4 separate regions of the Homo sapiens genome follow, and all the other regions are linked to region 1. Evidence: fine-mapped expression QTL. A gene starts in region 1. Each other region holds a variant in brackets. All regions are shown on one strand. Distances are between the middles of the regions.

Region 1 (2,679 bases):
ACTGAATGAATGCAGAATGCAGTGAGTGGGTTGGTGAATGAATGAATGCAGGATGCAGTGCGTGAGTGGGTGAATGAATGTACGAAGAAGCAGTAAGTGAGTGAGTGAGTGAATGGATGAATGAATGCAGGATGCAGTGCATGAGTGAGTGGGTGGATGAATGAATGCAGGATGCAGTGAGTGAGTGGGTGAATGAACGTATGAAGAAGCAGTAAGTGAGTGAGTGAGTGAATGGATGAATGAATGCAGGATGCAGTGCATGAGTGAGTGGGTGGATGAATGAATGCAGGATGCAGTGAGTGAGTGGGTGAGTGGGTGAATGAATGCAGGATGCAATAAGTGAGTGAATGAGTGAATGCAGGATGCAGAGAGTGAGTGGGTGAGTGGGTGAATGAATGAATGCAGGATGCAGTGAGTGAGTGGGTGAGTGGGTGAATGAATGCAGGATGCAGTGCGTGAGTGGGTGAATGAATGAATGCAGGATGCAGTGAGTGAGTGGGTGAATGAATGAATGCAGGATGCAGTGAGTGAGTGGCTGGATGAATGAATGCAGGATGCAGTGAGTGAGTGGCTGGATGAATGCAGGATGCGGTGAGTGTGTGAGTGGATGAATGAATGTAGGATGCAGTGAGTGAGTGGGTGAATGAATGAATGCAGGATGCAGTGAGTGAGTGGGTGAATGAATGAATGCAGGATGCAGTGAGTGAGTGGGTGAATGATTGCAGGATGCAGTGAGTGAGTGAGTGGCTGGATGAATGCAGGATGCGGTGAGTGAGTGTGTGAGTGGATGAATGAATGTAGGATGCAGTGAGTGAGTGGGTGAATGAATGAATGCAGGATGCAGTGCGTGGGTGAGCGAATGAGTGGGTGAGTGGATGAATGAGGAAGTGCGAGTCAGAAAACCCCAGTGTAACCGGTGAATGAGCGAACAAGGGCGTGACTGGGCGAGGAGAGATGGGAGTGAATGAGGGTGCGGTGGGTGCAGGCTTGCGCCTGAGGTAGTGCACCTGCGAGTCCGGAGGTCCAACCTGAGGGGAGGTAACCTGCGCCACCAGCAGGCTCCGTGTCCACGTGGACGGGGAGGGGCATGTGGGCGTGGCTAGGCGGGTTGTAGGCGTGGCGAGGCCGGGCGAGGAGCGCGGCGGGCCCGCAGGGGCGGACTGTGGGCGTGGCGCGCGGGGGAGGGGGCGTGACCAGGCGGGGTGTGGGCGGGGCGAGGGCGCGGCGCGGCAGGGCTGCGCGGCCGGGTGGCGCGGGAGGAAGTCACGTGGGAGCGCGGGCTCACATGACTGGCCGCGCGATGGACCCGCTGCCCGCGGCTGCAGTCGGGGCGGCAGCTGAGGCGGAGGCTGACGAGGAGGCGGATCCCCCGGCGTCAGGTAGGGCGTGGGGCGGCGGTAGCCCCCACCTGCCCAGGGCGCGCGGCCCGACCACCCCCGGCGGACGGGGCTCAGCCGCCGCGCTTGGTCCCCGACTCGTTTCCTGCCCCCGCGCCCCGCGTTCGGCCCCACGCCCCAGTCCCTCGGAGGTCCCCCTGCCCTCCTGCGCGCCTGTCCTTTGGGGGTCCCCGTGCTCTCTCGCGCCTCCGTCCCTCGGGGTCCCCTGCCCTCCTGCGCCGGGAGAGCCCTGTCCAGGTTACAGCTGGCCGCGTTCCGAGGCGCTTTCCCGGGGCTCTCAGAGGCGTCCTCGGGGACAGTTTCCTCCTCGCCCCGTTCCTGGTGCCCTGCTCTTCTGCCCTGCCTGGTCACGCTGAGCGATGGCACTGGGGGCCACTTCCCCGGACTTGGGCGCCTTTCCTAGCCACATCCTCTCTCCCAAGCTCCTGTCGGTTGTGTGGTCTTGGGCCAGTAATTTCACCTCTCGGGACCTCTGTTTTCTCATCTGTGAACCGAATCTATAGATGTGTAGCTGCTTTTCTCTCTCTTTCAAGTGATCCTCCGCCTTAGCCTCCCAAAGTGCTGGGACTACGGGCGCGTGCAGTTACGCCCGGTAATTTTTTTTATTTTTGTAGAGATGGGATCTTGCTATGTTGTCCAGGCTGGTCTGGAGCTTCTGGCCTCAAGCGGTCCTCCTGCCTTGGCCTCCCAAAGTGCTGGGAGTACGGGCATGAGCCATCGTGCCTGGCCTGTATTTCTGTCTTTTTCTTTTTTCTTTTTCTTTTCTTTTCTTTTTTTTTTTTTTTTGAGACAGATTCTCACTGTCACTCAGGCTGGAGTGCAATGGTGCGATCTCGGCTCATTGCAACCTCCGCCTCCCGGGTTCAAGCGATTCTCCTGCCTCAGCCTCCTGAGTAGCTGGGATTACAGGCATCCACCATGACACTCGGCTAAATTTTGTATTTTTAGTAGAGACGGAGTTTCACCATGTTGGCCAGGCTGGTCTCGAACTCCTGACCTCAGGTGATCCAACCACCTCAGCTTCCCAGAGTGCTGGGATTACAGGCGTGAGCCACCGCGCCTGGCCTCTTGTATTTCTCTTTAAGGGATTTGGGTTAATGAGGCTAAACATGGCTGGGCACGGTGGCTCACGCTTGTAATCTCAGCACTTTGGGAGGCCGAGGCGGGCGGATCACGAGGTCAGGAGATCAAGACCATCCTGGCTAACACGGTGAAACCCTGTCTCTACTAAAAATACAAAAAAAATTAGCCAGGCGCGGTGGCGGGCGCCTGTAGTCCCAGC
Region 2 (2,679 bases), 44 kb after region 1:
TGGATGGTCCCTTAAGCCCAGGCGTTTGAGACCAGCCTGGACAACATAGCGAGACTTCGTCTCTACCAAAACAAAACTGAGGCCAGGCATGGTGGTGCACACCTGTAATCCCAGTCACTTGGGAGGCTGAGGCATGAGAATCGCTTGAACCCAGGAGGTGGAGCTTGCAGTGAGCTGTGATTGTGCCACTGCACTCCAGCCTGGGCGACAGAGTGAGACCCTGTCTCAAAAAAACAAAAAACAACCCTGCAGCCCAGCTCCTGTTTCCTGGAGGAGGAAGCAGCTGCCAGCCCCTCCAGGGAAGGCGGGTCCTGTGCTTCTCCTCCACCTGTGCCTGCAGGACCCTCTCCCTGTGCGGGGAGGGGCGGGGGCTCCACTGGAATAGAGGTTTCCAGGCTCTCCTCTATTTCAGGGAAACCCCGTCTTGAATGGGGACCTGACGGCCTCTGTCCTTGTCCCTGCTGCAGGAAGACACCCCCTCTCCCAGGCTGACTTCACACAAGCCTTGGTTCCTTTTGTCTTCGTTCCTCTCGGAGGCAGAGGGGCCTTCCCCCTGTGCCTGAGATGTCCCTGGGATGCCCCCGGGGATGTCTGGAGCAGGCAGTGGGATCTTTTGAGCCCTGGGGTTGGAAACCTTCCTTTGGAGGCGATCTGCATTGCCAGCAGAGGAATGTGGCAGGACCTGGGAGGGGCGGTGGGCAGGGGTGCAGTGGGTCACAGGTGGGCAATATCCCTGTTCTGGGGGCAGGACGTTCCCTGTGGCCTTCCCACAGGTATCATTCTCTGTCACTTCCCGGCCTCAGTTTTCTTGCTTGCTTTCTGTTTTTAGAGATGGGGTCTCACTATGTTACCCAGGCTGGCCCTGAACCCCTGGGCTCCAGCGATCCTCCCGCCTCAGGCTCTGAGTAGCTGGGACTACAGGCACGCACCATGCTGGGCCTCAGGTCTTTTTTTTTTTTTTTTTTTTTTTTTTTGTAAAATGAGAGTTGAGTCAGATGATCTTTAAGGCATCTCTGAAACCTGAGAATTCCTGGACACGCAAACAGCTGCATATTAGGGTTTCCCCTTGTATCTCCTGGGTGGCTCCTGACTTTAAGGCACGGCTTTGCCCAGGAGGCCTCTTTCAGATGAGAGGGCTCCGGTGCCAGGGGCTGGGCCTGTCCCTCTGCCCAGCAGCTCCCTGGGCTCTGGTGTCCCTGGCGCCATGGATGCATTCCCAGGAAGGAAGACACTTTTGCCCTGTTCTATTGCGTTTTTGGAAGCTACCAGGGTCTCAGGTATCTCTGGGGCTGACGCCGCCCCGGGTCTGTGGATGGAGGGGCCGTTTCTCTGCAGAGCCGCCCCTGGTCTGTGGATGGAGTGGCTGTTTCTCTGGAGAGCTGCCCCCCGTCTGCGGATGGAGTGGCTGTGCCTCTGGAGAGAGGCTGCAGGTTTGTGGTGCTCCTGCTGTGAAGCCAGGCTGTCCTGTTTGGTGAGAAAAACATCTAAGGGAGAGTCAAGAGATTGCAGAATACTAATGTCAAAGCCAACATATGGAAATGTGTTTCTCCTGAGGAAAGACGACCTCC[C/T]GCTCCACAGTGACCCATACCCCACAGCAGCTTTCTTGCTGCTAGTAGAAGAGGGTGAAGCTGTGTGTTTTCCTTTTGCAGGATGTGCAGAACAAGTTAAAGGAGTCAGCACAGTGCGTCGGGGACGAATTCCTGAACTGTAAGCTGGCTACCAGGGCCAAGGTATTTTTCTTTTTTTTTTCTTTTTTTTTTTTTTTAATTTATTTTTTTATTGATCATTCTTGGGTGTTTCTCGCAGAGGGGGATTTGGCAGGGTCATGGGACAATAGTGGAGGGAAGGTCAGCAGATAAACAAGTGAACAAAGGTCTCTGGTTTTCCTAGGCAGAGGACCCTGCGGCCTTCCGCAGTGTTTGTGTCCCTGATTACTTGAGATTAGGGAGTGGTGATGACTCTTAACGAGCATGCTGCCTTCAAGCATCTGTTTAACAAAGCACATCCTGCACCGCCCTTAATCCATTTAACCCTGAGTGGACACAGCACAGGGTTGGGGGTAAGGTCACAGATCAACAGGATCCCAAGGCAGAGGAATTTTTCTTAGTACAGAACAAAATGAAAAGTCTCCCATGTCTACTTCTTTCTACACAGACACGGCAACCATCCGATTTCTCAATCTTTTCCCCACCTTTCCCGCCTTTCTATTCCACAAAGCCGCCATTGTCATCCTGGCCCGTTCTCAATGAGCTGTTGGGCACACCTCCCAGACGGGGTGGTGGCCGGGCAGAGGGGCTCCTCACTTCCCAGTAGGGGTGGCCGGGCAGAGGCGCCCCTCACCTCCCGGACGGGGCGGCTGGCCAGGCAGGGGGGCTGACCCCCCCCCACCTCCCTCCCGGACGGGGCGGCTGGCCGGGCGGGGGGCTGACCCCCCCACCTCCCTCCCGGACGGGGCGGCTGGCCGGGCAGAGGGCCTCCTCACTTCCCAGTAGGGGCGGCCGGGCAGAGGCGCCCCTCACCTCCCGGACGGGGCGGCTGGCCGGGCTGGGGGGCTGACCCCCCCCACCTCCCTCCCGGACGGGGCGGCTGGCTGGGCAGAGGGGCTCCTCACTTCCCAGTAGGGGCGGCCGGGCAGAGGCGCCCCTCACCTCCCAGACGGGGCGGCTGGCTGGGCGGAGG
Region 3 (2,679 bases), 930 kb after region 1:
TCAGTAAAGGCCTCACCTACCCCGTGAGAATCAAAGGAGAAACAGTGGGCCCCACTTCCTCAGCCACGCACACAGAGCAGGTGTTCCGTGCGCACATGTGGATGGTGTGTCTACCCGCCCGCCGCCGCGCCTGCTCTCCGGAGCCTCCGAGGGGATCCGTATGTAACTCAATGTGTGACCACCCCGAGCTGGGGCCCCTCGGAGGGACACTGTTGAGGGAGGTGGTTTTTTTAGTTTTTTGTTTTTGCTTGTTTTTTGTTTTTTGGACAGAGTCTTGCTCTTGTCGCCCAGGCTGGAGTGCAGTGGCGTCACCTCGGCTCACTGCAACCTCCTCCTCCAGGTTCAAGTGATTTCCTGCCTCGGCCTCCCGAGTAGCTGGGATTACAGGCACCCGCCACCACGCCCGGCTAATTTTTATATTTTTATTTTTATTTTATTTTATTTTGGAGACAGAGTCTTGCTCTGTCACCCAGGCTGGAGTGCAGTGGCGCAATCTCAGCTCACTGCAAGCTCTGCCTCCCGGGTTCACACCATTCTCCTGCCTCAGCCTCCCGAGTAGCTGGGACTACGGGCGCCCGCCACCACGCCCGGCTAATTTTTTGTATTTTTAGTAGAGACGGGGTTTCACTGTGTTAGCCAGGATGGTCTCGATCTCCTGACCTCATGATCCGCCCACCTCAGCCTCCAAAAGTGCTGGGATTCCAGGCGTGAGCCACTGCCCGGCCGGGAGGTGGTTTCGGGTTCTGCCTCAGCCAAGGGCAGTCGCAAGCTTCCTTTTCCATCCTGCGCGAGGGGCGCACGAGATGGGGCCTCTGCAGACACCTGGCCCCCACAGGTGGGAGGCATCAGTTCATTCACAGGCGCGTTGTGGCGTCCCCACCTGCCCTCCTACCACCACCACTGTGGGAGCCCAGCACCCCTCCCCCACGCTGGGACCCTCCTCGCCACTCCCCGGCTGGCACCAGTGCCCTCCCTGTCCTGGCCAAACTGAATCCACAATTTGTTCTTGGGCGATGTGTAAATTGGCACCTCATTGATTATTAATGAAGTGCTAATTGCTCTTTGAAACCAATTTTGATGGGGATACAGCTGTGGCTGTTTGTACAATTTCTCAGACATGGCTTTCACAGCTGCTGAGACCTGGGGCACGGGCCGGGGGGCAGTTTCACAGTTTACAAGGCCTCCACGCTGAAGGACGGCAGAGCAGGCTGAGCACCCCTGTCCCTTGGAGGTGACCACGACACCCGCCTTGTCCTCGGGAGAGGGAAGAGGAGGCCCACAGGGCAAACCGAGACGGACTTGAGCACCATGCCTGGCTCCCTGACCAGGCCACCATTGCCCCGGTGACCCAGGCCCGTCTGCAGCC[TGGGGAGGGGAGCCC/C]ACATCAGTCTCCCTGGACTCCAGCTCTGGCAGCTGACACGAGGCGGGGAGGACTGAGGGCCCCGCTGCCTGGGTGCTGTGGCCAGGAGGGCTGGCTGGGCCCTGAGCTGGGTGCCGCTCCGGGCACTGGGGCTGACGTGGTGGAAACACGAAGCCCAGGCCAGACGCGGGATGGCGGTTGCCTGGGTGCACCCGGTGGTTGCCTGGCAACGGGGCTCAGGGACCATCCCCAGCAGAGGGTGGCTCTGGGGACCGGCTCCCCGGGCACAGGGGAAGGAAGCAGTGTCAGGCGTGACTGAAGGCTGGAGAGCAGCTTCTGTAGAGTCGTAGAGACCGGGGTGGCTGCAGGACCCCCGAGGTCCCCCGCCCCCTGTCTGGAGCCCAAAGTCCCCGTGTCAGAGCCACACACGTCGGCCCCGGAGGAGAGGCTGCCACTCTGTCCCCTGACCCGTCGGTGCCCAGGGAGGTGGGGTCAGGGCTTCCTGTGGGGAGCAGACAGTCGGGGTGCAGGCCTGGAGCAGGACCCTGGGGGTGGGGCCACAATGTTGGAGTTTTCGGGCCCAGAGTGAGTCAAGGGAGAAACAGTGGGTCCCACTTCCTCGGCCGCAGGCACAGAGCAGGTGTTCCATGCACACGTGTGGGCGGTGTGTCCACCTGCCGGCCGCTGCACCTGCTCTCGGGAGCCTTCGAGGGGATCTGTGCGTGGCTCAGGAGCGACGCGTGACTTCCCCGAGCCGGGGCCGTCAGACGGGCACTGATGAGGGAGGCGGTTCTTATCCTTTCTCTGCCAAGGGCAGCTGTAAGCTTCCTTTTCCATCACACCTGAGGGGTGGAGGAGGCGGGGCCTCTGCAGCCACTTGGCCTTCTGGTGTCTAGGGGGGTCCCCTCTGTCCCCCCAGCTCCCTCTCCTGGCTCCCTGCGGCATAGGAGGCTCTGAGGGTGACCCGCTCAATCCCAGAGGCTGCAGGGCAGGGTGGGAAGGTCTGTAGCAGGGGTCCCTTCCTGGCTTCACACTCCCAGGCGTGCGAGGTCTACGCGGGGCCCTGTGTGTAGACCCCTCCAGCGTCAGGCAGGGAAGAGTCACCCACCCCGGCCACATAAACCGACAACCAGCCACACAGTTGAACGTCAACAAAACGTTGAGGTCTGCAAGGTGAGGACCCTCAGGGCCCAATCACGCAGCGGGACACAGTGGCCCAGCCATGCTGCTGAGTTGGGGGTTCTGAGAGGCTGGCAGGAGGTTCTCCCCACTGAGGCCTGAGGCAGGAGGGGGCCGGGGGCCTGAGTGGGCTCACAGCG
Region 4 (2,679 bases), 22 kb before region 1:
TTGCTTGAGGAAGTTCCTTTATATTCCTAATTAGCTAAAAGAGGTCTTTTGCATACTTGTTTTTTTTTTAATGTAATAAAGGGGTTGACTCTGTGATTCTTTAACTAACATCTAAAATTGACCCTGAGCTAATTAATTCTCAATCTTTCATGTTTTCTCGTATTTGCATTTCAGATTATACGTTTCCCTCCAGGCATTGCTCTCTGTCTGCTTCCCTTGAGTTCTGATAAGTAGAACTTTCATTGTCAATTTCAAATAGTCTGTAATTTTATTATGGATTATTTTACATTTCCAAATACATTGGAGATTTTTGGCTAGAAATGTATTACTGATTTTTATTAAAGTGTAATTTACATAAGGGAAATGCACAGACTTTTGTTTTGTTTTGTGACAGGGTCTTGCTCTGTCACCCAGGCTGGAGTGCAGGGGTGCAATTACACAGCTCACTGCTACCTCTGCCTCCTGAGCTCAAGTGATCCTCCCTCCTCAGCCTCCCAACTAGCTAGGACCACAGGTGCGTGCCATCACGCCTCACTAATTGTTTTACTTTTTAGGGTCTCCTTGTGTTGCCCGGGCTGGTCTCGAACTCCTGACCTCAAGTGATCTGCCTGCCTCGGCCTCTGAAAGTGTGGGGATTACAGGCATGACCCGTCACACCGGGCTGGAATGCACGGATCTTATATGCTACAAATTAAAGAATCTTCACAGCTACGCACAGTGGTGTGACCCTTATCAAGAGACAGAACATTTCTGTCACTGGCAAAATTCCCCCACGCCCTCCTCCACAATAGGCAACCGCTATACTGATTTCTTTCTTTTTTTTTTTTGAGACAAGGACTCAGTCTGTCACCCAGGCTGGAGTGTAGTAACGCAGTCTCGGCTCACTGCAACCTCCGCCTGCTGGGTTCAAGCGATTCTCATGCCTCAGGCTCCGGAGTAGCTGGGATTACAGGCATGCATCACCATGCCCAGCTCATTTTTTTGTTTTTTTAGTAGAGATGAGGTTTCACCATGTTGGCCATGCTACTCTCGAACTTCTGACCTCAAATGATCTGCCCTCCTTGGTCTCCCAAACAGCTGGGATAACAGGGGTGAGCCACTGTGCCCAGGCTTATTTATTTATTTTTTTGAGAAGGAGTCTCGCTCTGTAGCCAGGCTAGAGTGCAGTGACGCAATCTCGGCTCACTGCAACCTCC[G/A]CCTCCCGGGTTCAAGCAATTCTCCTACCTCAGCCTCCCAAGTAGCTGGGTTTACAGGTGCGCACCACCATGCCCAGCTAATTTTTTGTATTTTTAGTAGAGAAGGGATTTCACTGCGTTAGGCAGGCTGGTTTCAAACTCCTGACCTCATGATCTGCCTGCCTTGGCCTCCCAAAGTGCTAGGATTACAGGTGTGAGCCACCACGCCCAGCATTTTTTAAAAATTTGTTATTATTGTTATTTTTGAGACAGGCTGAAGTTGCCCAGGCTGGAGTGAAATGGCACGATCTCGGCTCACTGCAAACTCCGCCACCCAGTTCAAGCGATTCTCCTGCCTCAGCCTTCTGAGTAGCTGGGATTACAGGCCTGCGCCACCATGCCCGGTTAATTTTGTATTTTTAGTAGATATGGGGTTTCTCCATGTTGGTCAGGCTGGTCTCGAATTCCCTACCTCAGGTGATCTGCCTGCCTCAGCCTCCCAAAGTGCTGGGATCACAGGTGTGAGCCACCGTGCCCAGCCCTTTTTTTTTTTTTCTCGAGATGGAGTTTCACACTGTCACCCAGGCTGGAGTGCAGTGGTGTGATCTTGACTCACTGCAACCTCTGCGTCCAGGGTTCAAACAATTCTCCTGTCTCAGCCTCTCAAGTATCTGGGATGACAGACGCCTGACACCATGCCCAGCTAATTTTTAGCAATTTTAGTAGAGATGGGGTTTCACCATGTTGGCCAGGCTGGCATTATTCTGATTTCTTTCACCACAAATTAACATTCATTTTTCTGAAATTCCATCAAGTTTTGCCTACTGTAGAATTTTTTTTTTTTTTTTTTTTTTTTTTGAGACAGAGTCTCGCTCTGTCGCCCAGGCTGGAGTGCAGTGCCGCGGTCTCGGCTCACCGCAAGCTCCGCCTCCCAGGTTCACGCCATTCGCCTGCCTCAGCCTCCCAAGTGGCTGGGACTACAGGCGCCTGCCACCACGCCCAGCTAATTTTTTTCTATTTTTAGTAGAGACGGGGTTTCACCGTGTTAACCAGGATGGTCTAGATCTCCTGACCTCGTGATACGCCCGCCTCGGCCTCCCGAAGTGCTGGGATTACAGGCGTGAGCCACCGCGCCTGGCTACTTTCACTCAGCATATTGTTTCTTTCTTTTTTTTATTGAGATGGGCTCTGGCTATGTTGCCCAGGCGGGTTTCGAACTCCTGGCCTCAAGCAATGTTCTCGCCTAGGCCTCCCAAAGTGCTGGGATTACAGGCGTGAGCCACCACGCCCGGCTAGCATGCTGTTTGAGAGGCTTCTCCTTGTTGCCTGTGTCTGTAGTTTGCCCCTTTTTACTGCTGAGTAGTATCCATTGTATGAGCATAGAACAATTTGTTTATCCGTTGGCTGTTCATGAACCTCTGGCTTGTTTCCAACATCTGGCTATTTTTTTTTTCTTTTTTCTTTTGAGACAGAGTCTCACTCTGTTGCCCAGGCTGGAGTGCAG

Which allele goes with the higher level. Alleles are on the strand shown, and positions count from the first base shown. SD is a standard deviation of normalised expression in the study named. Not every link is listed here.
For the expression in subcutaneous fat of the gene that starts at base 1,266 in region 1, C is the low allele of the variant in region 2 and T is the other (small effect, 0.19 SD a copy in GTEx).

The links. PIP is the estimated chance that this variant, and not a neighbour inherited with it, causes the effect. A credible set is the group of variants that fine-mapping cannot tell apart.
Region 2: its variant is the best candidate, but not a certain one, in a credible set for the expression of SNX8 in subcutaneous fat (GTEx, PIP 0.71).
Region 3: its variant is the best candidate, but not a certain one, in a credible set for the expression of SNX8 in esophagus mucosa (GTEx, PIP 0.79).
Region 4: its variant is the best candidate, but not a certain one, in a credible set for the expression of SNX8 in whole blood (TOPMed, PIP 0.65).

What each region holds. Positions count from the first base shown.
Region 1 is chr7:2,313,028-2,315,706 of GRCh38, reverse strand. It overlaps SNX8 (sorting nexin 8), which reads left to right and starts at 1,266. Exons shown (of 11, transcript NM_013321.4): 1 at 1,266-1,379. The coding sequence starts at 1,286. RefSeq lists enhancers at 161-661, 662-1,162 and silencers at 981-1,250, 1,351-1,590.
Region 2 is chr7:2,268,610-2,271,288 of GRCh38, reverse strand. SNX8 (sorting nexin 8) reads left to right here. Exons shown (of 11, transcript NM_013321.4): 5 at 1,650-1,730. Among named protein-coding and RNA genes, the nearest start is that of MIR6836, 12 kb to the right of the region's middle. RefSeq lists enhancers at 1-12, 622-1,232. The variant C/T (reference allele first, on the strand shown) is at 1,569.
Region 3 is chr7:1,385,593-1,388,271 of GRCh38, reverse strand. No RefSeq gene overlaps it. Among named protein-coding and RNA genes, the nearest start is that of MICALL2, 73 kb to the left of the region's middle. The variant TGGGGAGGGGAGCCC/C (reference allele first, on the strand shown) is at 1,367.
Region 4 is chr7:2,335,157-2,337,835 of GRCh38, reverse strand. It overlaps a transcript of SNX8 not described here. Among named protein-coding and RNA genes, the nearest start is that of EIF3B, 18 kb to the left of the region's middle. The variant G/A (reference allele first, on the strand shown) is at 1,197.